Regions from separate parts of the Homo sapiens genome. Here regions 2, 3, 4, 5, 6 and 7 are each reported to be linked to region 1. The links are microRNA targets in miRTarBase. Many come from high-throughput screens and were not tested one by one. Region 1 holds a microRNA gene; each other region holds the end of a gene's coding sequence. Distances are from middle to middle.
The links. Region 1 holds the annotated microRNA hsa-miR-507 (UUUUGCACCUUUUGGAGUGAA, at 2,899-2,919, shown strand). A microRNA usually pairs through its seed, bases 2 to 8, with sites in the 3' UTR of a target mRNA and lowers its output. Matches are read on the target gene's strand: a 7mer-m8 pairs with bases 2 to 8, a 7mer-A1 pairs with bases 2 to 7 and ends in A, and an 8mer does both.

Region 1 (4,850 bases):
TTTTCGGTCTTCTGCACATAACCACAGAGCCATGCAGCCACTAATCTGCTTTTATTCACTATGGATTAGATTTTATTTTCCAGATTCTTATTTTTTATTTTTTGAGATGGAGTCTCTCTCTGTCACTCAGGCTGGAGTGTAGTGGCGTGATTTCGGCTCACTGTAAATTCTGCATCCCAGGTTCAAGCAATTCTCCTACCTCAGCCTCCCGAGTACCTGGGACTACAGGCGCACACCACCATGCTGAGCTAATTTTTGTATTCTTAGTAGAGACGAGATTTCACCATGTTGGCCAGGCTGGTCTCAAACTCCTGACCTCAACTGAACCTCCCACCTCAGCCTCCCAAAGCGCTGGAATTACAGGCATGAACCACGGTGCCTGGCCAAAATTTTTTATTAAAATGGAATCATACTGTATATACTGTTTATTTTGGCCTAGCTTATTTCTCCTGGCATAATTATTTTGAAATTCGTCCACATTGTTATTTGCATCAATAATTTATTTGTTTTTATGGATGAGTAGTATTCCACTGTATGGATATTCCAGTTTTTTTTAAATGCATTCACCTGTTAATGGCCATTTGTCTCCAGTTTATAGCTATTTTGGCTTTGACTACTAGAAAAGACGTAGCTATGAACCTTGATATAAAAATATCTGTATGGAGAGGCAGAAGGAGAGAAGGAGAAAGAGAGGGGAGGGGAAGAGGAGAAAGGGGAGAAGGGAGAGGGTGGAAGAGGGAGAGAGAAGGAGAAGGGGAGGGAGGGGGAGGAGAAAGTAGAGGGGGAGGGAGAACCAATTCCTGGAGCCCACAGGAAGCACGACCTGGGAAGCAAGGTGTAAATGTTACATGTCCATATCAGAGGATGGGATAGAATTTGATAGTCTGCTGCTACATTATCTCCCAGGAAAGCTCTTTCAAATCATGTCTTTCTTGGTGTCTAGTTGGCAACTGATGATGTGTGTGGATTTTGTTTTTGCAGTGGCCAAATACCTCACTTCACCCAAAGTCATGAGGAAATACAGGCTGTAGTGAAGAGGTGGGAAACTGTTCTACTTTGTTTTCTATCATTGTTTATTATGATACCTCATCTGTTTACTTCTCAGTGTCCACTGCTCTCCTTCCTACACTCGCAGCATTTCTCAGTGCAGTGTCGTCTATCCCTGATACGTGCTAGATTTCCTTTGAACTTCGTTCTCTGTTTTGTTTGGGATTATTGGAAAGTAAAGTTACATTTTAGTGTATTTGTTTTTATGTTTTGGGGGTTTTTGTATTGTGTATGTTCTTTTTGATTTTTGTTATTGTATTGCTTGTTTGCTTTTTTAGGGTTTTTGTTTCCTGTAGAATTTTGTATATTTGGATGTGTTTTGTATATTTTGTGTGTTTTTTTTTATTCCGATTTTGAATGGTGTTTTTAAATGTGTGTTAATTAGAATTTTCAGTAGTATTTTTACATTCTTAAAAATTGTTACTCCCGGCTGGGCACGGTGGCTCATGCCTGTAATCCCAGCACTTTGGGAGGCCGAGGCCAGTGGATCTCCTGAGGCCAGGAGTTCAAGACCAGCCTGGTCAACACGGTGAAACCCTGCTTCTACAGAAAATACAGAAAATTAGCTGGGTCTGGTGGCACATGCCTGTAATCCCAGCTACGTGGGAGGCTGAGGCAGGAGAATCGCTTGAACCCAGGAGGCGGAGGTTGCAGTGAGCTGAGATTGTGCCATTGCCCTCCAGCCTGGGCAACAAAAGCAAAACTCTGTCTCAAAAAAAAAATTGTTACTCCTTTATTGTTTTTTTAGTTGACACATAATAATTTGTAAATATTGATGAGATATAGTGAGATGTTTTGATACATACATGCATTGTGTAATAATCAAATCAGGGATTTAGTATTTTCATTACCTCAAACGTCCATCACTTCTTTGTGGGAAGAACATTCAAAACCCTCTCTTCTAGTGATTTTGGAATATACCATAAAATATTGTTAACTAACTATAATCAATCACTCTTCTGCACAATAACACATCAGAACTTTTAGCCCTCCTAACTGTGACTCTGTACCCATAAACCAATTTTTCCCCAACCCCCCTTTCCCTTCCCTTCCCCAGACTCTGGTAACCATCATTCTACTCTCTACTCCTATGAGATCAACTTTCTTAGACTCTGCGTATGAGTCAGATCATGCAGTGTTTGTCTTTGTGTTTGCATTGCCCTATTTTGTGAGCATTCGTTTTGGGGTTGTTTGTTTCATTGTTCACATGTTTATTTGCATGTGTGGCATGCATGTGTTCACATGTGTTGCAGATATTTCTTGGTCTAAACACTGGTTTGCAAGTGCATGACTGTGGTGACTACTGCTTCTGCTGCTGTAGGCCTTCATCTCTGAACAGAGGATGCCAAACCAAGGCCCCAATGATATAAAGAAGATTCAAATTGGAAAGAAGAGAACTCTCCAGCACTGCTTCAACTGAGCTCTATCTGGCCTGCAATCGCTAGATATGATGAGTCACTTGAGTGGTCCTTTCTATGTAATGACTGGCTTTTGAGGCATATGAAGTAGTTGTTCATGTGCCAACTATATTAAATTGAAAATTAGCAGAACAATTTAGTGAAGTATGCTAAGTCTGGGAGGAAGAGGGAAAATTTTCTCTCTCCTAAAATCTGTCTCATTAAATGTGCAGCAGGTGAAGTAATTAATAAGCATTCAGTGAAAGACATAGGAGACAAAAGGGAGAGGAAAAAGGGTTTGTTTTTTTTTTAATCTATTGACTATATTCTGCTTATTCCTAGTGGACTGAGAGTGTTGGGATTCTGACTGAAATGGCGGAGTGAGGGACATTTTCCGCTGTGCTGTGTGTAGTGCTTCACTTCAAGAAGTGCCATGCATGTGTCTAGAAATATGTTTTGCACCTTTTGGAGTGAAATAATGCACAACAGATACAAGTCAGAACTACCCACTCAGTGATGGGTCAACTCATACAACCCTTTAAAGAGAATTCTGTGGGGTAAAACCTAGAGGATGAGGTTCTCTGGGAATAGCCTCATCTGTAGTTTCCCCGTGTTACTATTAAGATGGTCAGTGCCACCACCATCAGCCATACTATGTGTAGTGCCTTATTCAGGAAGGTGTTACTTAATAGATTAATATTTGTAAGGCACCCTTCTGAGTAGAGTAATGTGCAACATGGACAACATTTGTGGTGGCATTGGTAATGACGAGTGGAATTTCAGTGACAATACTGCCCTCCCTTGAGCCTTGGTACCCAACCTTTAGTGATGAGCCATTTCCAGGTACTCTCTGAAGTACCTCTTGAGAGATCTGCTCCAGAATCTGAGGGTGCCTGGGAAAAGTCTCTCATGTAGGTTTTTCAATTATTTATTGCTTTTTCTCCACAAAATGACTGACTACACTGGAAACAAGATTTGAGGTAGGAACATGATACTTCTTTTTCTCTTGTACCTCTTAGTCTTTTCTCTCTATAACAACCCAAATACACTTCTTGCCTTATAAACCCCTGAGAAGTTTACACTGATCTTCTTTCCTCACAATATTTAAGCCTTCTTTTTAGGGAGCACAAATATCCTCCTGCCCTTCCCTGCTGAACTCCAAACTCCATGAACCATCTTTCTTATGAAGTGATCTCCTCAAGGCTTAGATACACTCAAATTCCCTTTAATATTCCTGTGTATCCGTGATGATAATCTCATATCAGTGGAGTTTGATATGATACCCCAAATTTGCTTTCATTTGAACTATTTATATGTTTTTAGCTGGTCTTAACTATTATGGGAACGGATGAAGTGATGAGAACATATATGTATGAACATGTGTGTACATATACTTCTGGAAACTTTACATATACAAAGGGGTTTATATATCCCTTTATATATATATATATATATATATATATATATATATATACACACACACACACACACACACACACATACATATGACATTCACAGAAAAAGGAAAAGGATGCAGAAAAAGGATCATGTTCCTACCTCAAATCTTGTTCCCAGTGTTTTGTAGTCCTTTTGTGGAGAAAAAGGAATAAATGCTTAAAAAACCTACAGGACATACTTTTCACAGGTACCCCAGGCACCCTCAGATTCTGGATCAGGTCTTATAAGACCTTCAAAGAAACACCCAGGACAATGATTGAGCAAATATATATGTATATAATTATTATAGAAGTCTATTTTTAAAATAAATCCCTTAAGATATTTATTATAAGGATACTGCAAGGAATAACCTCAGGCAACTATGGAGGCTGGTGAGTTCCTAGATCTGCAGGGGGATGGGTCAGCAAGCTGGGGACCCAGGAGAACTGATGGTATAGTTGCAGTCCAAGTCCAGAGGCCAAAGAAGCAGTAGAACAAACCATTTTGTAGTTCCAGTCCAAAGGCCAGCAGGTTTGAGACCCAGGAAGAGCTAATGTTTTAATTTGAGTACAATGCCAGAAAAAAATGAGATGCCCCAGTTTGGAGGCAGTCAGGCAGGAGGAATTCTCTCTAACTTAGGGGAGAGTCAGCCTTTTTGTTCCATTTAAACCTTCATCTGATTGGTGCAGGCCCATCCATCCACATTAGGGAGGGTGGTCTGCTTTACTCATTCTACTGATTTAAATGCTAATGTCATCCAAAAAGACCTTCACAGAAACACCCAGAATAATGACTGACCAAATGTCTGGGCACTCCATGACCCAGTCAGGTTGAAATATAGAATTAATCATCACAAGTTCACTCCTTGTCATGTTGTCACTTATACGCATCTCCTTAAATTATATTTAATCATCAAATGAGAAAAATACCAAGGTCATAATTTCATTTAATAAGATACAACTACCATTT
Region 2 (4,850 bases), not on the chromosome of region 1:
TAAAAATGTATACACAACACAGTGGCATTTGATGGGTCCAAGGGTCCCCAAGGTGTCCATGGATAGAATTGAGTGGATCTCTGATAGTTGTATTAGATAATCAATATTTGTTGTAATCCTCTGTGTTTTGTTTTTTAAAAAAATGGGTCTGTAGGCTTCACTAGACTGCCAGAGGCGTCCATGGTACAAAAAAGGCTAAGAATCTTATTGATATACACTTTAAAATCTATGTACTGTACTGATTGGTAAGAAAAAAGAGAGGTTAGAGAATATTTACATTATATGACCATAGAAGCACCATGAGTATGTTATTTACATTGAAATTATTATAGCTCTGTATTTTATTTACTGAGAGAGATCAAGAAGTTTTCCGTATGTTAATTGTTTAATCTTCTCAGAATTTAACATTTGACCACAAAGAGATTAAATTGTTCTCTTAAGTTGTATATGAACTAAACAACCTTAGTTAATTAATCCATTACTAATTACATCCTGCAGATTATTCCATTAGTTAGAGAGCACAGAATTCAGGTCAGCACTTTTTCTTTGCACACCTGCTTGAAATAAAAAGTGCTTCTAATAGGTTTATATCTAAACCCAGCAGTATATCTCCTTCTCGCGGATTTATACCTAAATCACACCATGATTTTTAACATCTGGTTTCTTTTGCCTCTCTCAATAATTTTTTGTTGTTGTTCATTCCATCAAATGTGAGTTGAGATGTGGGAGGCATAAGGTCAAATTCCTGAAATTAAGTTAGATTTTGAAAACACACTTGGAATAGCATTTCTAAAGTTTACCTGTGTACTTAATAAATAAAACCTTAAAATTAGACCCAAATATGAATTGATCCATTTCTAAAAACGTTTGGAGCTTCCAGTTAGTCTCTAGGCACTCTGAGACTATGAAAATTTTTCTGCTAAGCTATACTTCCAAGAAATATATTTTTCCTTTAATGTCAACATATTGAAATCATTATCATTTTCTTTCTACCTTCTTTCCAGGACAACTAAACTACCTCGGATCAAGCCACCAAATATGGCATATCCTTGCAGTAGTGATGTTATATTGGTGGCATCAGTCAACAGTGTATGTCATGCAGTACAGACATAGCAAGCCTTGTCCTGACTATGTTTCACATTTGTGAATTAGGTATGGCCACCTGGTGAATTCAGTTGTTAAGCAATATATAATGGGGAATTGTATACCCCACTATTTCTAAGATTCCCATTAGTTTTCCCTTTTTCCTTTTTAATATGAGTAATGCTTTATAAAAATGGGAAAAAAAGTATACTTAAGGATCTGTAGTAATAACTGCTTTACAAAATCCTTAAAACTACTAATTTGCTGCTTGTACAGAAAGTGAAAATTAGTTGGCAATCATAAGAAACATCTGAATAACAACGATGAATGGGAAACTAGTGTTGAAATAGGATTCATTTTACTTAGCACCAGCTTAATTTCCTTAGGAAGGGCTCATGTCCATTAGAAAATGGAGTCATCTTATGTGCTTAATTATTTTCAGTTAATTGTCAAGTTTAAGTGCCTAATCAAGGCAAGTGTTGTTTCAGCCTATGCTTAATGCAAGCTAGGATAGTGATTTTAAATAATCACTAAAATCACTAGATTTAAATAATCACTAAAATGATTTGTGAGAAACTGGCACTTCAGATATTATATCCTTTAGCTATAGGTTCTTCTCTCCCTAAGAACATTAGATATTTTAGTTTTCCAGAACAAAAGCTTTAAACTTCTGCAGTAAGTTGAGAGAAGGGTTGAGAAGAGGAAAAGAACTTCTCATTTTCTATCAGATAAGAATCACATTAGAAACTAAGTACAAGATTAGACAACAAATTATGTGGTCAAATAATATAGTCATTAGCCACCTAAACATTTTAATTCCAGATATTATTTAATTCCATATAATAACTGAATTCTTGTGAGTGGATTACAGGTTTTTGATCCCAAAATTCCAGAGCTTTCAACTCTCTGAATTTGTAGTCCTGAATATCCCAGTGGTGGGGGTTCCCAGCATTGTGGGTGCTACTTGCAAGGCCATAGAATCTAGATGGCCCTGTCTTGACCCTGAAATGAACCTTAAGCCTTAGAACAAAGTCATGCAGATGCCCCATTTGATAATAATCTTATTCACCTGTGCTCTGGTCCTCGGTTTCTGCATGTGTTAGCATTGCATTGATAACTCAGAATCTTGATAAACACTTAATATTTGGGCCTGAAGCATTAAACTTTCTTTTTATTGTATATACTTAAAAAATAGAACTCACTGCCCTATCATACATTGTAGCCCTCTTATTCTTTGGTCTTTCATATGCATTAGTTAAATCCCTTAAAGTAGACATTCATAAAAACTTACATTGTTTATTGGAGTATAAAATATTACCCAAGTTTCTTCATGAGTTGACATGAGCTGTTTTAAATACTGGTGTATTTTCAGAACAGTAAAATTACTGAATATCAGAAAAAATGTTAATTGATGATGAAGCTTATTCCCAAAATGCCTTTTGTGCATATGATACTTGGAAAGTCACTAATGTGCCTCAGTTAATACATCAGTAAAATGTTGTGTTTCTTTTCCAGTGTAGTGTTTTTGGAATATAAATTCCCCATGCTAGTATAGTATCTCAGCAAAGAGAATTTCCCCCCAGGAGGCTCAGTAAAGGAATACCGTGTCTTACCCATCGTTATGATGGAAGGCTGCTTTGAAAATGGCTGTTTTACCTTATAAGGTTAAAATTTTGATCCATATGTTAAGTGATAGAAGATTTTGGTGCAACAGTAGTAGGATATATTTCTCCTAGAACATCCCTTATTGGCTTACATGATTTTATTGCCTTTTAATAGATATTTTGTCATTTTGGCCAAACAAAAGACACTGAGTAGTTACACTTAAGTTAAAAATGAGGGGAAAATCATTATTTTAGGTGTGGAGCCATTTTTATTATAAAACTTTCTCAAAATAAAAAAACATTGAATCATTTCAATTTTTGCAGTCCCTGTATTAGTATATGAATACATACTTGCCATTTGAATTAATAACATGAAAAGAGTATACTGTGTTTTTAAATCCGTGTTTCTTTGAATTTAAAGGGTGTACAGGTCTTTCTGTAGGGAAAATTATTCCATGTAAACATTTCAACTCTGTATGAAAATGTTAAATATTGTAAGAAAGTTATCCTCTCATTTTTTCACTGCTATGATATATTTATTATAAAATAGGGAATGAATGAATGAATATGGATTGCTGTTAACTAGAAACACTTCTGTATGTCAGTCAGCATTTAATGACCACCTACTGTGTGCACAGCACTACTGGTAAAATTTTGAAGACATTGTTAACATTAAAAAATATTTTAAAGTTGTCTACAAATCTGAGCCTTGTAATGATGTATATTTAAGTTATTTTTGTTTTTATAGATTAAAGTAAGATTAAAATATACTATCCAGTTTTATTACTAAAAAAGACTGGTTTTAATTTTACCAATGTGTGAACTATAAAAGCTTTTTGCCTACAGATTTTACATTTTAAAATTATCTATGGCTGTTTTAAATTGTCTAGCAATTTATATGGTTGTGGTTAACTCATTTAAGAAACAATTATCTTTCTATATTAAGCCATTTTCAAATAGCAAGACAGTGCTTGTCTTTTTTTGTTATTACACTAACTGCAATTCAGTAAGCTGCATGACAAAATATGTATTATGTAAATAAACTGGGTTTACTAAATATTTTTAACTGCTGCTTGTCATTCTTTGTAATACATAACAGCTTTAAAATCATATTTTAGAATCAGGAACGAAGATTCAGGGAATGTCTGTCACATCTTATGGCATCCCACCTGGACAGAATATCCGATTTGAAGATTGTGATTGACTTCCGTAAAACTGTACAACTCTCCATTTGGCAGGTACCTACTAGATAATACTTTGCCCTGTATTAAATGTCAAGGGGCAAAGCCTATTCCTGTGAATTCCTGCTGGTTGCTTTGCTGCATTAGGTCCCTGTCCACTGTAAATCATCATTCCTGGGAATTCTACTTCTGCCCAAGTGTGTAAAGAATCAGCTCACCTATTAGAGAAGGGGTAGAAATACCTTCTGTGTGCATTATCACAATAACTGTGTTTACACTAAAGAGGTGTAAATACAGTCCTCTGAAATTTTGTACCAGAATTCCCAAGTAGTGTAATGAGATAATGATCCAGAACTGAAACTACCCTTAAGAAAACATTTTTGGAAGGGAGAGGTAAATAGCAGTAGGGGGTTTCTTGTGAAAAATTAACCTCCATCCTTAAGAGGGCTGAAATGAACAGCCACCAAGGTTCTAGTCCTGCTCTATAAAATCTGAGATCAAAATACTACCTAACCTGCACATAATCTCAATTGTGACAACCATCTGAACTATCTCATTTAATATGTAACAACAAATACAAGCTCAAGCTTTCAATATGAGAATATTAACTACATGTTACATATGATGCTTGACCTGGGCTTCCTTAAAAAGGTATTCGTTATCCAAAATAAATAGCTCAAATTGCAGCATATATTCATCTCAAGTAACTATAACTGAATTTGAACAGTAATACACTGCAAACTATTCTTTGTTAATAGAACTTTTCTAATCATTTGTGTTATTTTGCTTTGTACCATTCATTTTCATTAAAAAGATACAAAGCCCCTTTTTTTCACATAACTTTAGATAAATGTTACAACTTCAGAAAAAGTTAATTCATAAAAATAGGATGAACCTTTCCACAGGCTACCAAAGACTCCAGTTTTTGGAATAATACATATTATAACCTTGATGCCAAGCTTAGTCCATCAATCCAATAAAT
Region 3 (4,850 bases), not on the chromosome of region 1:
ATGACTGACTATTGGTTGAATAACAAAATTAGGGCAGAAATAAATAAGTTCTTTGAAACCAATGAGAACAAATACACAACATACCAGAATCTCTGAGACACAGCTAAAGCAGTGTTTAGAGGGAAATTTATAGCACTAAATGCCAACAGGAGAAAGCAGGAAATATCTAATATCAACACCCTAACATCAAAATTAAAAGAACTAGAGAAGTGAGAGCAAGCAAATTCAAAAGCTAGAAGAAGACAAGAAATAACTATGATCAGCGCAGAACTGAAGGAGATAGAGACATGAAAAACCCATCAAAAAGTCCAGGAATTGAGGAGCTGGTATTTTGAAAAGACTAACAAAATTGATTTTTATGTATCTGCTTTGATTGCCCTATAACTCTAGTTATCTGCAGAATTGTACTGTGGCTGCCGTAAGTCACCTCCTCAACACTAATGCCTATGTGGACGTTTGTGAATTGAAAAACAAAACAGTGAACACTAAATTTGTAAGGCAAGTTGCTGTATCCAGCATCTCTGTTAATTAATCCTCATCTTTAACTTTGGAATGTAGTACAGATAAGTTGTTTGAGCCCCTGCTATCACAAGACCATTGTGGATGAACTTCCATTCAATACATGAGCAATGCACAGAAATTGGAGAAGACACTGCATTGGCAGTTTCAATCAGCAGGCTAATGGCATTCATTTATATGTGAGCTGATTTTGGTAAATTGCTTAGCTTCCTTGGGCCTCAGTAGTATCACTGGGAAGTGGCAGTAAAAATGACTGTTTTTCGTCCTTCACAGAGTTTATCAGAATCAAATGAAAATTGATATGTGAAGGCATTTTTTAAAGCACAACGTGCTTCACAAATTTGAGTTTTTGTAGTAATTTTAATTAAGTGTGTGGTGTCTTCAAAATTTCTTTCAGGCAAGGTTGCAGGATATAACTTATTTGTTGAAGTTCTGTTATCTCTCTTGGAAGCATCACAGACAACATGAGTCATTGAGAGAACTATTATTATAACATTCACAGTAAATAATAATAGCACTAACAGTGCACACAATAAATACTCATACTTTGGGGGCTTAGAACAAATCAGAACATGGATCCTTAACATGAAGTTGCCCGTAGGCAACATTTGCTGCATGTCTCTCCTTCCTCTCTTCTTACATATGAGCTTTATTTTCCTACAGGTGTTTCTAGGTTTTCATTCCTCATGATCTGGGATGGCTTTCTATCCAAGGATACTGGCGTTTGATGTCCTACTTTGTAATTTTTATTAAGCTTTTCTGCCTTTAAAGTGTCATGTACTATCATCTCAAAAGAGTTTAACTAGTAACCTGATAAATGTCAAACATATAACAAATTCCTATTATTAAGCTGAATTGAATATGGTATTAATGGGATATCTTGACTTTCATGTCATCATATCCTAATGACATTCTATTTGGTTAGAACCTTCTGAACCTTCCTCCAGAAGTAAGAAATGAAATGATCACAACTTTAGCTAGAAGACTTTTGACCTCAAATCTTTAATTTTAATTAATTTTTAACCCACTTAAAATTTGGGTTAAAAATTAATTAGTTGCCAACATATTAAAATATGAGCTTATGTTACAAAGTCCCAGCTTTCTGACTTCTCTTGAAATATCAGCACATTTAGCAAGATTGGGTCCTCCCTAGCACCAGCAGCAGCCACTGAGGAGCAGCTGGCTCCTTTGGAAGGGCAAGCTGTGCTCAGTGCACTAGGGTCCCCACGTGTTCCACTTCATTTAGGTAAGTCATCTGCCTGGCCCCTGTAGGATCTGAGTTTATGGCCCTTGTTGAACCCACAGAAATAACCTAATTAAGTCCTATCTCATAACCAGTTAGTCACGGGTGAAATCATGAACAGATGGTTTAAGGTGAACATATGTTGTTGATCTGTTTCTCTTACTTCATTAACCATTTTGCCAGCATTTGAAACAGTCTAATCATATGTCAGAAACCATAACTGGAGTAGAAGTTTATAGGGTGATAATCTAGAGTATCTTTGAACTGTTTATTTTTAAATTCCAAGTGAAAGCTGCTTTGAGGTTTGATCTACAGTTCAAGGTAGAATTTTACCAGCTCAGTAAATGTGAGTTCTAAGCATGTTCCGAATTCTGTGCCTCACACATTTCTGTGATGCCAGAGTATTAGAAGGGACATCTCCAGTAGGATTTCTATGACATATATTTATGAAGAGTAAAAGGCCTCCCATGAAATGTCACCATTAGTGATATGTTAGAGGCAAGGATGAGGGGGCCTGGAGATGATGTTGGTAGCACTTTGAAGCTTCCAGAATTTTCTTAAGGCTTCACAAACTCCTTCCCTCATTCCCTATGCCTAAGGTGAATAAAATTGATGCAGGTAAACCTAAGATAAATAAAAATGAAGTTAAGTTAATAGCAGTGGGCAATTTAGCAAGAGAACTATAACCAGTATTGTTTGTGAACAATTCCCCATTTTTTTCTTTTGATTTCAAGAGCTCCATTTTTCTTAAATCAAAGTGTGACTATATAGGGGCCTGAGATTAAGGTGTGAGCCTACAGAAAGGGGTTCAAAGCACCTACTTGGTATATGTTAGTGAAATCGATAGATCAGAAGCACAAAAAGAGTATTTATCATTCCACATGGTCTGAAACAAGACACAAAGCTAGAAGTCCCCCATATAAAGGTTTGGGGTTAAAGCATTTCTATGTCTGTGCCAACAAGGAGAACTTCCAAGTATAGCCATGGCCATAGGGTGTGACTGGTAAAAGATCTGGGCATCTTGGATTCAAAGATCTTATCATTGCTCACAGAAAGCCCTTGTACATGTCTGGCTTTGGGCCAGGGCAGGTTAGCCTAACCATCAACAACCTTCCTAATCATCACCAGTAAACTGGGAAATTATCCACTGGGATAGACACAGAGTGCTCTAGGGAGAGATGGTAGAGCAAATACCAAGAGAACAACTCATTTGACATATAGACAACCAACTATCTCGTGCACAATTAGTAATTAAAATTCTCTCTCAAGACCCATGTAACCTGGCGAGTTATTGGGTCAATAATATACCATGTGTGAAAATATGAAAATCATCACAAAAGAGCATGATGATGGAGGCTCCATACCTCAGTTTAGCATTTTCTAGCTATGTTGACTCAGATCAAATGTAGTACAATCAGGAAAAAAAGGATGGATAACAATAACTGTAATGACGGTCACAGGAAAATAGCAAATACGTAGGATGAGGGAAGTTACTTTTTCTTCTTGATGAACTCACAGACAAAGTACATGGTAAGATGGCACTCTGTGTCATTCCATCTGCCAGAGCTCAGCATCTCCACACAGTCCTCATGACCATAGGGGTCGCTGGGTTCCCCCTCATTCCAGTTGCTATAGTTCTGCAGTGGAGTGTTGTCTGTGAACATGTACTGTCCCTCCCTTTCAAGGTCATTCACGCCAATGAACACCCGAAAGAAGCCACTCTTGGCAACATAGTCAGCGATGAGTGTGTTGGCAGCTTCATCCTTGGGCATGGCTAGCATTCCACCCCGAATCCTGCAGTGGGTTAGGGATTCCCTGTAGTTCTTCTCTTCCTGCACGATGTAGTAGAATTTCTCTTCAGTTTCCCTAATCCCTGCTATCACTGCAGGGAGAGAAAAAGGAGTATCATTACGTATCTCAAAAAGATAAAAGGCAACAAAATTATATGATATTGCCAGATTTACATTTATTTATTCAATATTCAAGAATTATTTTTCAAAGCCCTATTATGAGGTAGTCACAGATTTAATTACCCCCACCTCTAGTTAGCAAATAGAGAACACATATCTACCGTTTGTTCTCCCTTCCTTTTCTCCTCAACTTCTCACACACCTGGCCAGCACAAAGTTGACAAAGACATGTTACATGAACTTTCAGCCAGCCCATCTCATACTATATTTCCCAACATAGTTTATGCTTTAGCTATACTGGTGGCTACATGAGCAGGCCCTTTTCTCTTATACTTCCAAGCCTTTTATGCCTAGAAAGTCTTTTCTACCTGGTAAACTTCTACTCATCCCTTTAGATCTCAGTGGAAATATTTTCCCCTATAAGAAGTCTTTCCAATGCCCTTGGATAGACATGGCAGTCACTCTCCCGAGTTTCCATTGCCCCTTTCACTTCCTCCTTCTAGCACTCAACACATTTTAGTCTCATCGTTTGCCTGCATTTCTCTCCTACTTACCTGTGAATGTCTTAAGGACAATGACCATGTCTTTGACACTCTTTGGCTTCAGTGCCTGGAATACTTATGGGAATGGTAAATGCTTATTGAAATGATGCAGGAATAATACAGATGTTTGTCCACATTGGACCAAATTCCTGGGCTGTGAACATGTACATGAATTGGGATTGTCCATATTTCATCCCAGGTACAAGAGGAAGACTGAGCTACTGAGTTAGCTTCAGGACAGAACTGGAGACTGAGAATCACCCTTCTCTCATAATATGGCATGTATGTTTTGGGTGTCAGCGGCCTCTACATAGGCATTTTAGGATCCATAACTTTAATTCACAAATAAATCTATGACCACTAAAATGTTCAGAACTATTGCTCTATGTTCTCCCTGTATGATCTGGCTTATTCATGACAGTCTAAGTCATATCAGAGACAGAATCTTCAGTACAGATTACAACCAAAGTTATAATTAGTGTGGTTAGTTAATATCAAGTATTTCCTTTGCCTCTAGTGTTACAAGATGAGGATGAACACGAGACAGCATCTATGTGATTCCAACAATGTACAGCAAATATTGCTGAGTTACAATAAATGAAAGTATAAGAAAAAGAAACCAATTTTAACTGTAAT
Region 4 (4,850 bases), 14 Mb from region 1:
CAAGAGGGATAGCTAGCTTCCTTCCTTCCTTCCTTCCTTCCTTCCTTCCTTCCTTCCTTCCTTCCTTCCTCCAACAGAGTATCACTGTCACCCTGCTAGAATTCAGTGGCACAATCTTGGCTCATTGCAACCTCACTGCAATCTCAGCTGCTGGAATGCAGTGGTGCAACCTTGGCTCACTGCAACCTTCGCCTCCTGGGTTCAAGTGATTCTCCTGTGTCAGCTTCCTGAGTATCTGGGATTACAGGCACACACCACCACACCCGGCTCATTTTCATATTTTTAGTAGAGACAGGGTTTCGCTATGTTGGCCAGGTTGGTCTCGAATGCCTGACCTCAAGTGATCCACCCACCTTAGCCTCCAAAAGTGCTGTGATAGCTTTGAAGAAGGTTTCCATCAAATTGGAGAAATGAGGAATCCACAGGAACAAGAAAGATTAGAGTTCATTAGGAATTAAAGAACTTCCATCTAATTTTGCTTAGTGGAAATACTAGAATCTAGCAGAAGTATTTGATAACCTCTTGTATAATCTTCATAATCTTCACGCCTGTAATCCCAGCACTTTGGGAGGCAGACAGATAAAATCTTTTCGCTTTACGAATCATCTTACTGGGGTCATTTTACATTCCAGGTACCTGTTTGCAGTGACAGGAAATGGATTAGCCAACCAGGGCAACAACCCAGAGGTCCAGGTTGACACCAGCAAACCAGACATACTGATCCTTCGTCAAATCATGGCTCTTCGAGTGATGACCAGCAAGATGAAGAATGCATACAATGGGAACGACGTGGACTTCTTTGATATCAGTAAGCATTTGTGGTTTGAAAGTACGAATTGCTCTTGTATGTCTTCTGATGAGAACAAGTGGAATGAAATTTCTATTCCATTTTTTTTTAAACTAGGTGATGAAAGTAGTGGAGAAGGAAGTGGAAGTGGCTGTGAGTATCAGCAGTGCCCTTCAGAGTTTGACTACAATGCCACTGACCATGCTGGGAAGAGTGCCAATGAGAAAGCCGACAGTGCTGGTGTCCGTCCTGGGGCACAGGCCTACCTCCTCACTGTCTTCTGCATCTTGTTCCTGGTTATGCAGAGAGAGTGGAGATAATTCTCAAACTCTGAGAAAAAGTGTTCATCAAAAAGTTAAAAGGCACCAGTTATCACTTTTCTACCATCCTAGTGACTTTGCTTTTTAAATGAATGGACAACAATGTACAGTTTTTACTATGTGGCCACTGGTTTAAGAAGTGCTGACTTTGTTTTCTCATTCAGTTTTGGGAGGAAAAGGGACTGTGCATTGAGTTGGTTCCTGCTCCCCCAAACCATGTTAAACGTGGCTAACAGTGTAGGTACAGAACTATAGTTAGTTGTGCATTTGTGATTTTATCACTCTATTATTTGTTTGTATGTTTTTTTCTCATTTCGTTTGTGGGTTTTTTTTTCCAACTGTGATCTCGCCTTGTTTCTTACAAGCAAACCAGGGTCCCTTCTTGGCACGTAACATGTACGTATTTCTGAAATATTAAATAGCTGTACAGAAGCAGGTTTTATTTATCATGTTATCTTATTAAAAGAAAAAGCCCAAAAAGCAGTAAAATTTCCATTTCTCCCTGTTATTTTAGTTGCCTTATCTGGAGAGACGTGGAGGTGATTTTCTTTTTTTTAAATTATTATTAAGACAGAATGTGAGGGCACAAGCAGGCTTCTGAGCCACTTGTCAGATTGTATTCAAAGCATCAATCCAAGAAGGAGGTTATGTGTACTTCATTTATTGGTGATAGTTGGAAGAGACTGCAGACTACTGCTTTGAATGAGTTGAATTACATAAGCTAAGATCACTATAGGTCCATTTCTTGAACCCACTTATACATAAAATGTAACCCATTTAGAAAAAGATTCTGGATATCATCCCCCTTGAAAGATAGAAAGCATTCAGGATGTCCCAGTTATCACATGTTCACACTTGGGTTTAGGGGTGTTTTTTTTTAAAACCAGGCAGGTTAGCTAGCCCACCCTGTGCTAGTTTTCATGTTCACACTGACCCTATTTGAATTAATATCCTTTGTTAGAGTGGTCGAGATTTCAAACCCAATTATGTACAGGGAGCTGTCTGAGAGCTAGCCAGAACTGGGGTACAGCCTGGGCTCAGGGAATAGCTGTCAACACTCGGGCAAAGTTTTTGTCTGTGCATGTGTATCTCCATTTGTTTTGGGATCCCAGTTTTTGTTTTAAGAGAGTATAAGGTGTCTCATTTGAGTCTTTTTCTTACCTAGCCCCCTCTTATCAGTAAAACAAAGGACTTGCCATGGTTCACAGCAATGTGCTACGATCCAAGATATCAGCCAAGGAGCCCACTTAGGGGAGAACTAGGTGTCCAGATTTTTGTATGTGTTGTTTTTCTTGGGGGATGGGGTGGGGTGGGAGTAGGTAGAGCTGAGAATACTACATCTTAGTGGTGACCTTTAGCCACGTGGGTGAAGTGGCAAAGGCCATGGCCATATCTGTTGTCCCAGGCCAAAGACTAACAACTGCCTTGGGAATCCCTTCCTTGTGTCCTTACCAAATGATAGCTCATAAAACTCTGATAATGTAACAAATCACTTTCAAAGGAGTTCCCAGAAGTCTTCAGAAAGACTAAAATTCTGTCTCTTCCTGCTTTAGACAGCCATTAAGATCCCAACTAATTTTACCGAACCTAAAACCCACAAAGAGGTTGTTTGTGTTATTGTTCAATCTTCAGTTGTAAGAGTAATTCTCTATTTTTATATTGAAACATAATTACTTGATAGCTCAGGGTCTACATTTCATTCAACTTTTTACACCAAATTCTGCAGAGTGGTCAAAATGGAATATTGGGGGCTGTTGTAAACAGAGGCTTAATTTTATTAGAAGTAGCCAGTTATTTATTAAAGCATGATGTTAATAAAATAGGCATATTCTGGCTGGTGTGTATAAGTGGTTTTTTTTTTAAAACAAATCAGAAGACATAAAATTGAAAAGGCACTCCATTTATATATAAGGGAAAATAGATTGTAAATAGCTAAGGGGCCTTGTGAGAACTTGGAAAATGTGCTGATACTTAGTAACTACCTCAGTTGTGAGGAATTTCCTTTTTAGCTTAGACTGCTATTACTTTTACTTGGTAGAAATGAATCTGGTCTCCAAAATATGGCTCAGAGAGTTATCCCCATAGACCTTGTTAGATTGTTTTTAATTTAAAACCTTGAACTCTGCCCAGCTGTTTTCTTCCAGTCAAATTCTCTAAACCAATAACATTTTCCAAATTAAGTATTCTTGAAGGTTCTTCTGAACTCTTACTGATTTGTTTTCTTTCTTTGCATTTTTTCCTGTTACTCTTTTATTATTTAAATTGTCTCTTGCTTTTGAACTTCAACTATGAAATAAACAAATCATAGATTTTTCCATTCAGGTCTGACTGGATAACTCTTGGCTTCTAAGCAGCTGGCAAGCTCACCCCCACTCCCCAAAAAAGAAGAAAGGCAAGTTGAATATTTTAAAACCTTAAGAGTTTGGAGTATGAAGTAGAATAAAAGCCTTGTTAGGAGAAGACCTGACTTTTCCAAAGTTAACAGCATGTGAAGGGCTTGTGTTTTACAAAGTCATTTATAAATTATTTTTCTTTAAAACACATCACCTACTCTGTACCTTAAAGATTTTACAACTCTTAGATTTATATTTTATTTCAAAAATCGTAACTAGCACCTGTTATTTTGATTAAAAGACACTGCGAAGAATTGACGTAAATTTCTAAAGTTTAGTTACTGAGTGTTCAAAACCTAACAGTTCACATGAAGTAAAAATTGTCATTTGTGATTACAGAATCAAAATAAAAATAGGTATGAATGGTGCTACACAAATTTCTGCTTCCCCTTTGTTAGCAGAATATGTCTATTTACATAGCTAAAGGGTAGTAGGTTATTAGGTTAGTGCAAAAGTAACTGCAGTTTTTGCCATTACTTTCAATGGCAAAATACTAACAGTTATCTACTAGAGGAGGGTGTGTGTGTGTGTGTGTGCGTGTGCACGCACACGCGCATGCACATGTAATGTCACTGCTAAGCCAAATGTAACTTTCTACCTTTTTTGAAACAACAACAAAGTACTCAAAATTCTTCTGACTTTGAACTTCATGGGAAAAAATATAACTGCATACCGTGATACACTTCACAAACTCAGTTTCTAATTTTTGACTCCTAAAATTCTTCTAAAATTCCTTTTTATATATGTGAAAAATACCTGAGAGATGACATTTGGTAACAGGAATTCTATTCTATCAATGAGCCAAATGCCAAGTAATATTTACTTGTGTACTTAGTTTTTAATTAGGTAATATATTGACAGGGTTTAAAAAACAGAACATACATCAAGAGACTGAGTGAATTTTCCTCCCATTCCTGCTTCCATCTGCCAAGTTGTCCCCACACCTCAAGTAAGCTCTTACTATTTACTTATGTATGTCTTCTTCCAAAGTTTATTTATGCATATACAAGCGAATATGAATAGAAGTTTACTCCTTTTTGTCATATAAAAGGTAGCGTTTTTGTTTGATTTTTGTTTGTTTGTGGGGTTTTTTTTGTTTTGTTTTGCTTTGTTTTTTGTTTTTTGAGACGGAGGCTCCCTGTGTCCCCTAGGCTAGAGTGCAGTGGCGCAATCTCAGCTCACCGCAACCTCCGCCTTCCGGCTCAAGCAATCCTCCCACCTCAGCCTCATGAGTAGCTGGGATTACAGGTGTGCACCACCACATCCAGCTAATTTTGTATTTTTAGTAGAGACAGGATTTCACCATGTTGGCCAGGCTGGTCTCAAACTCCTGGGCTCAAGTGATCTTCC
Region 5 (3,441 bases), not on the chromosome of region 1:
AACACAACATTTAAAAAATTTTTTTTTCCTTAATTAATTCATATAAATTTAAGGGGTACACATGCATTTTTGTTACATGGATCTATCGTGTAGTGGTGAAGTCTGGGCTTCTAGTGTAACCATCACCCAAATGATGTACATTGTACCCATTTCATAATTTATCATCCCTTACCCCCCTGCCAACCTACCAGCATTGGCGTAGGCAGAATTCATGATTCAGACCTCAAAAGTGGAAGCAAGAGGGGCTGAGTACAGTCACTCATGCCTGTAATCCCAGCACTTGAGGCTGAGGGAGGAGGATTGCTTGAGGCTAGAAATTTGAGACTGGCCTGGGCAACGCAGCATGACTCCATCCAAATAAGTTGGGTGTGGTGGTGCATGCCTATAGTCCCAGCTATGCGGGAGGATCGCTTGAGCCCAGGAGTTCGAGGCTGCAGTGAGCTCTGATTGTGCCACTGCACTCCAACTTGGGTGACAGCCAGACTGGTGTCTTAAACACAACAAAAACAAAATGGGACTTAAGTAAGCTACGAAGTTCTTGCACAGCAAAAGAAATAACACAGTGAACAGACAACCTGCAGAATGGGACAAAATGTGCAAACTATGCATCAGGCAGGGGACTCATCCAGAATTTACAAGGAATTCAGCAAACCAAATCACCCTATCCAAAAGTGAGCAGAAAACATGAATAGGTATTTTTCAAAAGAAGAGATAAAAATGGCCAAGAAGCGTATGAAATAATACTCAACATCACTAATTAGAGAAATGCAAATTAAAACCAAATGAGATATCTCTCATCAGTCAGAATGGCTATTACACCCCATTCAATGTAAGAGAATAGTACCTTATCCTGTAGGCTGCCTGAATTTATTAGGTAGGCGCAAAAGTAATTGCAGTTTATGCCATATTAAGCAGAGTATACAAACCAATTTCTAAGGAAGTTCATCACAGCAAAAATTATTGGGGATTTACATTGTCAAGAATAGCGACATCTTCAGTAATTTTTCTCAAGATCATATATTGCCATATCTTGGTCTCCATAAGCAGATGAAGCATGACTTTTGGATATGAGGATAAGTGTCCAGATTTGGAGATAGGTTGATCCCCTGTCGCACCATTTGTCATTACTACACTGAAGTTGTTAGAACTGTTATTTAAGGATTAAATGTAGATTCGTATGCTGGCCCAAGAACCAAACCATTCCACAAATTCTGTGCTAAGCTCCAGGTGGCAACTCAGTAAGTAGAAGTTATATAGTGCAATTTCTGTGTGTCAAGCCCTGTGCATCTTTTTTATATTATCAAATTCGGTAAACTTGTAGGTAACTTTCTGTGTCTATAGTACAAATGAGGAAAACAGGGAAGTAACTATCCAAGGTTACAGAGCTAGTAAGATACAACCTCTACCTTCATAGAAGAGTGTTTAATATTACTTCAAGTTTTAAGTAATTCCCAAACTAGCACAGGGCTGAGAATAAGAACTTTGATGAGCAAAGTGACTTTAATTAGTTTTTAGGTCTTATAAATCTCATGCATTAGAGCAGTACTTTAGCCAAAAATTTTATTACCTACCTTTTTTTTCGCCCACCTTATTCTTGACTTTGCTATGCCTTTTTCCTATTTCTAAAACAAAACAAAAAATAATCAGGAGAACTATTCACTACCACTACTGCTTTTCAGAAAGAAGTACAAACAACAGTTCTAAAATAATGACAGTTGTAATGAGCATTTTTTCCCAAGGTTTGAAGGAGACACATGTACATTCGTGAATTCTAATACATTTATTTAAAATCCAGTTTTATAATATTCCACACTCTATTCCAAGAGTACAAAGTGTTGGGCACATGTTATAATGAAGTGTTAACTGGAAAAACTACTACATTTGGCAGTCTACCTCCAACTGTAAATGAAATTTCTATTGCAAATCAAGTCATACCTAGCTTTCATTAAATCGTTTATTAAATCAAGAAAATTTCAAAATTGTTTATACTTGGTTGGCTGTATCTGAAAGCAAATCTTTAATGCGTTTATTTCAAGGTCAGAAGTGATTTATTTCAAGGTCAGAAGTGATTTTTCTAAATTTATGCTGCATTTTAAAATTGATATACAGTGTTTCTCTTACCGGTTTTTTTTTGGGGGGGTGGGGTGGGTAGGGGTTGATGCTATTTTTTGGTTAAAAATTATAGCAAAAGAAGAAACTGCCTTTAACAATTTTTCTCCCCAAAAGTCTGAGAAATAGTTACTTTGAATAAAGAAAACCTAATTTTGGTGTCTTGTAGGGTAAATGAGATTTTCACATTGCAATACGCTCATAATAGTACAGTAAATCTTTAGAAATTTCTTCTTGAAAGATTGTTACATTAGAAGTGAGTGTAGTTTCGTGAAATAATGAAGCAAACTATTTTCTAACACTACGAACATCAGAATTACAGTGAAATACAGCATTTTTCCTATGCTTGTATAACATGTAGCCTTGTCAAGAATCTGCTATTAATTTCTTCAGTATGAAGAAAACAGTAGAGAAAATGAGAACGTTCCTTTTTTTTTAAAACTATCAGTTTTTACACTTACCACTAAGTTTTTACACTTTCCACTAGATAAAATGTGTTGGGTCGTTTTGTATTTTAAAGTATATTTTTGTTTTTGTGTTTACAACTTTTTCAGAAGAGATTAAAATGTTTATTTGCTGCTCTTTTTGCTCTTAACATTACTAGAGCTACTACTAGCACTAGATGGCCTAGAAGGGCTGCCTACTAGTGAAGAGGAGGCCGGGAATTTAAGCTCCAGTACTTTAATTGAAGACTGAGAAGTAGATGTACTTGTACTCCTAGATGACCTAGAAGAAAAACCAGAATTATAAATTCAATGCAAAGTTTATATTTTAGTATAGACCCTCTCATTATTGGCAAAAGGTACCATAATTCCATAAGTAAAGACATCAAAAAAGTACATATTAATAGTGTTAAGTTTTTAAATGACCATCAATAGATATCAAACAATTTAAACAGGAAAGGAAAGATGAACATAGATGAGTTTCAAACCAGTAGAAAAGTAGTTTAATAAGTATGTTCCTACATGGTAAAAATGCTTTGAACTATAATCAGTTTTTTAGAGTTGGAATCATTAAGCATTGAAAGTTTCCAAAACAGAGGAAATAGGGCCAAGAGGATTTGGTGCTGGCAAAAATAATTAAAATGATACCTTTTGTAATTTAAGCTGAAGAGAAGAGAGAAGCATATTGATGGATAAAGTGGTGGGGTCATTTGAAAAACAGCTAGCTATATAATTCTGAAAAAAGTTTTAAATATATATTTTATGAAAGTACAGGGATGTTCAGTTATATAGAAACAGTTTTTTATACTTAAATGAAACACTTTTTTTAGGGGCCTCTTCATGAAATTTTTACCTGGACTAAGGAATAGTAATTTAATAAGTAGCTGCT
Region 6 (4,753 bases), not on the chromosome of region 1:
GCAAAGCCTACATTTCTAGCTCCTGGGCATGAGACTGCTCCTTGATGAAGGGAGGTGGGAGAGGAAGTTAGGCGGCTCCAGTGAGAGACACAGAGGAAGTTCCACAGAATGACTGTGAGACAGTGATCTAGGCGGGTGGAGACAAGGGAGGCAGGGGGAAAGGGCAGAAGCCTTAGAGAGAGGAGGGAGGGACCGATCCAGAGAGTGAGAGCTGGGAACAGACACGCAGGGAGGGCAGAAAGGAAGCGCGGGAACGTGTGCCAGCTCAGGCATTTTTTTTCCTTAAGCAAACAAGGCCTCTATGATTTGTGTTTTGTCAGGCTGAACTTTCCATATCAGGAGTTTATTTAGCTGAGCAGCCAATTCTGGTAAAAACACTGGAACATGTTAAAAAGGAACGGGTAGGAAGGAGAGTCAGACAGAACAAACAGGAGAGAGCATCTGCCTGCAGCCGGTCCACGCAGTGCAGCTTGGCCTAGACCCGCTGACACAACACCCCCACCCCTGCCAGCTCTCTTTAGGGGCTGACCCAAGGGCCAGGTGACGCTGGACAGAGGTGGGGAAGTCAGCGTGGGGGAAGGAGTCTGGGCTGAAAGGGTCACAGCCCTGGGAAAGGTCTGGTTCCAGCCCAACCATGTAAGTCACTAGAGGCTGTTAGGACAAGTCAAGCCGAGGTTGCAGTCCACCCATGCACTAACGCCCCTGAGTCCCTACCACAATCCAGAGTCCCCTCAGAGACAGGGAAGCTGAAAACATGTCCCTGCTGGAACCCAGGTCTCGGGGTAGGCGGATCAGGTGTGGCTTTTTTTTTTTTGAGACAGAATCTCACTCTGTTGCACCCAGGCTGGAGTGCAGTGGCGTGATCTCAGCTCACTGCAACCTCTGCCTCCCAGGTTCAAGCCATTCTCCTGCCTTGGCCTCCCAACTAGTTGGGATTAAAGGTGTGTGCCACCACACCTGGCTAATTTTTCTATTTTTAGTAGACACGGGGTTTCGCCATGTTGCCCAGGCTGGTCTCGAACTCCTGACCTCAGGTGATCGCCCTTCTCGGCCTCCCAAAGTGCTGGGATTACAAGCATGAGCCACCACGCCTGGCCTCAGGTGTGGCTTTCAACCTGGGGGCCTGACCCGGCATGAGAGCCCTGCAGGGGACTGTCCTGCTGTTTTCTCACCTGCACAAGGTGGCCAACAATACCTGCCCACAGAAAGGAGCAACTAGTGGCTTGCCTGGCATCCAGCTGGTGCTTAATAATGGCAGCTCTTATGACTATGGAAGGCAACAGCTCCTGTGTGCAAGGAACTTGTGTGTCTTGTAGAATCAGGGCCACACGGCCAAGCAAGAGAGGCCGGAGCAGCTGGAGAGGGACACCGTCACCATCGATCTGACCTTACTTAAAATGAGACAAAACCACAAGGTATTCATGATTTGAAATTTTTATTTTCTGAAATGAAACAATTGTACATTGTACAAACCATATCTACTGATGGAATAAATAAGTGAAAAATTATACTGCTGTACAACACACCAAAAAAAAAAAAAATTCTTGAAAGGGGAAAAAATTAGGTAACGGTGAAAAAAGGTCTTTATGCCTCTAACCAGGTTCTTGGCGATAATGAACATTCCAAACCATGACACCGTTTGCTAATGGGAGGTCACCACCCTAGAGGAATCGGTCCACAGCCTTCCGGGTTGTGGGTGTAAGTGCCAGCACTTTGTGGAATGTGTAGCCGCAGCTTCCCCGACTTCACGTTTTGGGGGGAATTAGGTTTGCCCTGGGAGCCCTTGAGGCCACGGGGCCTGATGTCCACGGAAGGCTTTTGCTCGGGATCCCCCGCCCCCTGGCTCGAAGCTGAAAGGTCTTAGATTCTGTGGTGGGGGGAGGGCGAGGGGTGCAGGGTGGGTGGGGGGCAGCGGCTCGAGGAGCGACTGCGCCAGGGAAGGAAGCACATCGGATTTTTGCAGTCTTGTCATTCTGCGTGGAAGGCCTTCTTGGCCAGCGTGGAGTGCAGGGCTGCTGGCGCTTTGCCTGGCGTGGCCGTGGTGGGGCCCAGCTGGTCCCAATCGCCGGCCCATTCCTACCTTCAGGCACTTCAGAGAAATACTAGTGACAGCCTTGGGACGGTGGACGTCGTCTGAGTCCTCACCTGCGCCAACTCCCCTTGCCTGTCCAGAGAGGCTGCGGTCAACGGCAGGGCCACCTACGCCTCTCTGTTTCTGTGGATGTGTGTGTTTCATTCTCCTTCAGCTGTCTTGGTTGTAGCCTCTCGTTTCCCAAAAACAGAGAAGGAAATAAATATCCAAATTCATCTCTCACCAAGATGGAGTTTCGCTGCAAAGAAAAATGTGACTCTAACTCTACGGAATCTGGAGGTAACGCCGCCTCGAGATGCGTGGAGAGGAACCGCATCAGGTAGGTTCTGCGCCAGGATGCAGGACACAGTTCTCAACAAAACTGACTGCCTAAGGGGCAAAATTGATAAGTACAAGGATTTTTTTTTTTAAGACAGAAACCTTTCGGCATTGCTAACTTCAACATTAAGATTTTCAAAGTTGTGGTTTTTTTTTTTTCCCTTATTTCAGGAGACATTTTGCATGAGGTATTTGAAATTCAGGAACATTTTGATTCTTCTCGAAGTGCAGGAAATAGACAGGATCCCTTAAAAAAAAAAATAAGAGCCTCACCCTCAGAAACTCTTAGAAAATGGAATCCAGCAGACACTTCCCATGATGGTCAGGAGAAAGAGCCACACGTCAAAGGTGGTACCTGAATATGCACCAATTAGCCCCCAAAAACAACAAAACCCATGACCCCACCCCACCCCCAGTAACACACAACTCAAAGGGAGTCAGAACTCCAGTGCAGTAAAGAAAGCTTAGGAAAAGGTTTAAGGTCTGAGGAGTTCATATATTAATTAAGAGCAAACCAGGCCTCAGAACCAAACGATTAGGCAGTTCGTCCAAGGGGGCGTCTCCGTTCAGTGAGAGGAAGCTGTTCCAGCGAAGGTGGGGGATGGGAGGGAGGGGAGATTGCGTCTCTCCTTTCTGGAGGGTGTGCAAATCTTTCCAATTCCTCGACGCCTTGTTTGTGGCCTTCGAGGCCCGGCCATCAAGGCCCACTCCCCGGTGGGGACAGACGGCATGTTCTGGGGATGAGACACGGTCCAGCTGTTGGCTCAGAGTCAGAACAGCCTGAGAATAGGAAAGCACGTGGATTCTGACCACTGCGATCCTGCCTCTCCGGGGCACAGGCTGGGGCGTCGGGGGAGGCAAAGGGCAGCAGGTGACCGTGGATTTGAAATCCAAGCGACGTCCTATGAGAGAAAGTTCAGCACCAGCTAATCCTGCCGCCGGCTCCCAGCCTCCCCGGCCCACTCAGTGCCTTAAGGAGACAGCCTTGCAGTCAGCCAGAGAAGCCATTTCGTATTCGGAGGTCTGGGAGAAAGCAGTGATGGGGGTGGTGGTGGTGGGGGCAATAGAGAGGAAGTGCCAGAAAATTCCAAGGGCTTTGCACGTCCATCTGGGCCATGGTGGGCTTGGAGACGCCCAGTCCTAAACGCCCCAAGGAGGGGAGAGCACAGCGAGTGCCCAGCCTGATCCAAGGGGCCGAGCCCTTGGGGACTGTGCCCCAACACCTGCGCGTCCTTGGGCCCTGGTGCCTGGTGCTTGGGGCGTGCCTAAGGTCCCCCTGCACCTGCAAACCAGGTGGGCTAAGGAGCTCCTTCGCTCCACCCTGCCTGCTCCGATGAAGTCCTGGGGCAGGGAGGAGAGCGGTGAGTAGGGTGGCAGCCGCCGCCCGAACCAAACCAAGAGGGCACTTTGCAGAGGGGGATGTAAGAACCACCAGGATACATGCCAGAGGTCACCTCAAGGGCACAAGGCACAAAAAAAGAAAGCGGAAGGAATCGGTTGAACAGTGGAAAGCCCCGCCAAAAAGCGTTCCTGATCGGTACCACCCTCCGATAGCTTATATCGTTACATAGAGAAGTGGGGGGAAAATACAGCAGCAACACAAATGGAATCCTGGCTTCCGAGACAGTGTGCAGACACTCCTGAGCTGTCAGCCCCGCCTGCCTCCCCAAGGACAGTCCCTTAAAGGTTTGAGTGTTTTGCTTCACAGCAGAGTTCTTCAGTGTCTGAGAAGTGACGCCGTTCTGGGTCTTCTTGGATTTGCACTTGGTAAACTTGAAACGTTAGTAGTTCTGTTCGCACCCAAGAGGAATCGCTGGGGCAAAGTTGCTCTAGAATTAATTGCTGATGTACCTTCCATGGAACATGGATCGGAGGCTTTAAAGCATCGTCTACATCTCTTCGGAGTTTTGTTGAGAGGCCTCCAGTTTCATCTTTTTAGAGGGTGGCACTCCTTCCAAATCCTTGGGGAGAGGAGAAAAGGGGAACACAGGTTAATGGGCCAGGAGAGCAAGTTAGGCCAGGCGTGAGGCCGAAGGTCAGCCAAGGAAGGAACCGAGCGGGGGCGGCTTTGTGGTTCAGACCAGCAGTTCCAGACCCGAGGCCCAAGCGTGGACTCCAGAGAGTTTGAGGACCTATGGAGACCCTCACACCCAAACTCTTCCTGGAGCTATGGAGCGCGGTGTCCCCTGGCCCCTGCCTGACCCTATCACATGCCAATGGCTGGTAACTCGGGAGCATTTCCTACACTGCTGCCTTGGACCCTAGGCTCTCCCCACTCATTCAGACTGGACCAGAAGTTGCTGTTATCAATCTTCCCATCTATGATTCATTGCTAGGGTGATT
Region 7 (3,000 bases), not on the chromosome of region 1:
CAAGCCATTCTCCTGCCTCAGCCTCCCAAGTAGCTGGAATTACAGGTGTACGTCACCACACCAGGCTAATTTTTGTATTTTTGAGTAGAGACAGAGTTTCACCATGTTGACCAGGCTGCTCTTGAACACCTGGCCTCAAGTGATCCACCCGCCTCAGCCTCCCAAAGTGCTGGGATTACAGGCGTGAGCCACCGAGGCTTTTGCCATTATTATTATTATTATGAGATGGAGTCTTGCTCTGTCACCCAGGCTGGAGTGCAGTGGCACAATCTCAGCTCACTGCAACCTCCGCCTCCCGGGTTCAAGTGATTCTCCTGACTCAGCCTCCTGAGTAACTGAGATTACAGGCACTCACCACCATGCCTGGCTGATTTTTGTATTTTTAGTAGAGAAGGGTTTCACCATGTTGTCCAGGCTGGTCTCAAACTCCTGACCTCAGGTGATCCACCTGCCTCGGCCTTCCAAAGAGCTGGGACCACAGGTGTGAGCCACTGTGCCCAGCCAGTTTTTGCCATTATTTTTAATATTTTTAATGGCGAAAACCACAGTTACTTTTTGCACCAACCTTAGTAATCTTCAACACCTTAGAAGCTGCTGCCCAATACATCCAAGCATACATCTTAAAATTACAGTTTAAAATATTTTTAAATGAAATTTGACACTAACATTTGCAGAACTACCAAAACCTGCCTTGGAAAACTGGTTTGGAAAATGGATGAATAAGACAGCAGTAGGGTCTTGTTCAGCTCAAAAGCCTCTGTTTCTAAGGTTGCTTTTATTGAGACTCTATCAGGAATTCCACGGAGGGGAGAAGGGATAGCCACCTTGAAGATTTAGACTATCCTAGCATTAAAGTAAAAGCCTGAGAAGACTGAGAAGGGCTTTTAGAAGGCTGTGGGCAAAGAAGAAAGATCCACTTAAGTGGAATGAAAACAGTTTGACTGTTGAACTTGCACAAGGCAGACAGTTCAAAAGCAAAGCAGGGAGAGATCAGCAGCTCTTTCTACTTCCAAGAGCCTCCAGTTTTTAAGATTAAAAACCCACATCTTTATCCCAAAAGTTTGGGAGCCAAGGAATAGAGAGGGATGAACTATAACATGTTGATTGTTTTACTGCCAGCGTGAGTCCTGAAGTCAGCTCATTAACCAAAGACGCACATGCCAAATGCACTATAGATATAAATTCAACCAATCGCCAACTTTAAAAGTCAGAACATTTTTGCATAAAAGTCTGGATTTCTGGCTTTGCTTATTACAACTGGAAGCACTGACAGCAGTGGGCTTGTTTGGCCATGGTGATTCTGGGCTACAGTCAGGCTGCTCATACCCACCCTAGACACAATCTCTGCCTTCCACATGTCCAGTCTCTGTCTCTCCCTGCTGCTCACCCAGGTGCATGGAAGTGTCTAGATTAGTCACTAGCTCCTGTGAGCATTTGAGTGTGGTGCCTGTGGAAGAGATGGTTGTGCTCTGCAGACTGAAATTGGAGTGAGGTCTAACAGGAATGGGACAGAAGGCTCACTCTCAGAGCTCTTGCACCTTGGACTTGTGACCTGAATCAAATTATAACTACTTCCGCAAGGCTCAGTTTCCTCATCTGTAAAATAGATACAGAAACTCCTGCCCTCCCTAAAGTATGAGTTGTGATGAGGATCAGATGACAGCACCTACAGCTTTATAAACTGTGAGGTTCTGTGGTCCACATCAGTGATTTGCTGTATCTCACATTCATCCGTTCCCCCTTCATCTGGTACCAGAACTCCAGTTTGCATCTCAGGAGTAATCTCTTCTATTCTCAGTCCCAGTGGTGGACATTGGATCAGTCTAGCCGATTAGAGCTCTGCATTCTCCCAGATATAATAATTGGTTTAGGGCTAGGCGTATGGGCCAATTGGGACCAGTAGAGTTGAGGCTAGGACTGTTGGGAAAGAGAAGCTCTCTTTTCTATTGAAATTGGAGACAGCAGCATATTGGCCACCATGTTGCTAACCTGGGGGTGGCAAGTCTGAGAATGAAAATGAAAAAGAGGAAAGAATAATGGAAAGATGAGAAGAGACAAGGTCTGAAGCCATAATCTGAAGCCATGGGTCCAGATATACACCAGCAAACGTATTCTTTTTGCTTTAACTAGATTAAATGGGGCTAACTCACTGGAGCCCCATACCCCCACAGGGTTTTTTTATTTTTATTTTTTTACACTATCAGGCACACTTGTGAGCATTTGTTTGATTTGGTTTCATTTCCCTGGGCACTTTCTGACTCCAAGTCCTGGGGAGCTCCTGCAGCTGCAACTAGCTCCTCTCTCTGCCTGGATTTGACCATCCACATTGCCTTCTTGAAGTTCTTAAGAGGGTCCTGCGGTGAGGCTTTTGCTGAAAGGCACTGGAAATTCTCTCGGATCAGATAACCATGCCTGGTGGGGGCAATGAAGCCACTGGTGGTTGGGATGATTCTGTTTACCACAGCATGGACAAACTGGACTGTCAGCAGGGTGCCTGTAAGGGTGAAGAGAAGGACACAAATGAGAAAAATGGGGTGTAGAGGTCCAATCCTACACATTCCAGAGTTGGCTGCATGGAATAAAATTCCTGCTATGCCCTCTACTAATTTTGGCATGACATTTATTATGCCAAAGAGTCCCTCTTCCTTTATCTGCACAATGGGAATGATAACAGAACCTACACCTGCTCAGGGCGATTTTTAAGATTGAAAGGCATCATGCAGGTCATGTGCTTAGTGTAGGTTTTTGGCCCAGAGTGAGCTCAGTAAATATTATTGTTGAAGGAGGAGAAGGAAGAGAGGTTGTGAACTGGCCCAGGATGGGCTTTTAAGGCCACAGTCCTCAACCTTCATCTTCTGAGCCATCTGTAACTTTATACCAGTTGTATATATCTTTGCTACAGCATATTATACTACAATGTATAATAGTGTTATAGTTTACTATGTATCAGATTACAGTGTATTCAACTACAATGTAGTAGGCTCCACCTGATATTTATTC

Region 2: miRTarBase lists PAQR3 as a target of hsa-miR-507. The part of its 3' UTR that is shown has no 7-base or 8-base seed match.
Region 3: the mRNA of COLEC10 is a reported target of hsa-miR-507. The part of its 3' UTR that is shown has no 7-base or 8-base seed match.
Region 4: the mRNA of GPC4 is a reported target of hsa-miR-507. The part of its 3' UTR that is shown has no 7-base or 8-base seed match.
Region 5: miRTarBase lists CCDC39 as a target of hsa-miR-507. The part of its 3' UTR that is shown has no 7-base or 8-base seed match.
Region 6: the mRNA of BCL7A is a reported target of hsa-miR-507. Seed matches in the 3' UTR shown: 7mer-m8 at 4,168-4,174, 7mer-m8 at 3,506-3,512, 7mer-A1 at 2,588-2,594 and 7mer-A1 at 1,956-1,962.
Region 7: the mRNA of NWD1 is a reported target of hsa-miR-507. Seed matches in the 3' UTR shown: 7mer-A1 at 1,217-1,223 and 8mer at 554-561.

The regions. Positions count from the first base shown.
Region 1 is chrX:147,229,071-147,233,920 of GRCh38, reverse strand. MIR507 (microRNA 507) reads left to right here and starts at 2,844; the gene lies at 2,844-2,937. MIR506 (microRNA 506) reads left to right here and starts at 3,078; the gene lies at 3,078-3,201. All of the region lies in intron 2 of LOC105373347 (periphilin-1), which reads right to left.
Region 2 is chr4:78,916,836-78,921,685 of GRCh38, reverse strand. PAQR3 (progestin and adipoQ receptor family member 3) reads left to right here. Exons shown (of 6, transcript NM_001040202.2): 6 at 1,005-4,850. The coding sequence ends at 1,147. Among named protein-coding and RNA genes, the nearest start is that of PAQR3, 20 kb to the left of the region's middle.
Region 3 is chr8:119,104,594-119,109,443 of GRCh38, reverse strand. COLEC10 (collectin subfamily member 10) reads right to left here. Exons shown (of 6, transcript NM_006438.5): 6 at 989-3,644. The coding sequence ends at 3,253. Among named protein-coding and RNA genes, the nearest start is that of COLEC10, 40 kb to the right of the region's middle.
Region 4 is chrX:133,299,124-133,303,973 of GRCh38, reverse strand. GPC4 (glypican 4) reads left to right here. Exons shown (of 9, transcript NM_001448.3): 8 at 633-808; 9 at 905-3,871. The coding sequence ends at 1,107. Among named protein-coding and RNA genes, the nearest start is that of TFDP3, 83 kb to the right of the region's middle.
Region 5 is chr3:180,612,243-180,615,683 of GRCh38, forward strand. CCDC39 (coiled-coil domain 39 molecular ruler complex subunit) reads right to left here. Exons shown (of 20, transcript NM_181426.2): 20 at 1,766-2,835. The coding sequence ends at 2,679. It also overlaps a transcript of TTC14 not described here. Among named protein-coding and RNA genes, the nearest start is that of TTC14, 12 kb to the left of the region's middle.
Region 6 is chr12:122,058,710-122,063,462 of GRCh38, reverse strand. BCL7A (BAF chromatin remodeling complex subunit BCL7A) reads right to left here. Exons shown (of 6, transcript NM_001024808.3): 6 at 1,419-4,371. The coding sequence ends at 4,300. It overlaps LINC02985 (long intergenic non-protein coding RNA 2985), which reads right to left and starts at 173. Exons shown (of 4, transcript NR_135044.1): 1 at 1-173. RefSeq lists a silencer at 266-560.
Region 7 is chr19:16,814,522-16,817,521 of GRCh38, reverse strand. NWD1 (NACHT and WD repeat domain containing 1) reads right to left here. Exons shown (of 19, transcript NM_001007525.5): 19 at 1-2,494. The coding sequence ends at 2,483. The region is part of intron 2 of LOC124904648 (a long non-coding RNA gene); the gene reads left to right. Among named protein-coding and RNA genes, the nearest start is that of SIN3B, 13 kb to the left of the region's middle. RefSeq lists a silencer at 1-42.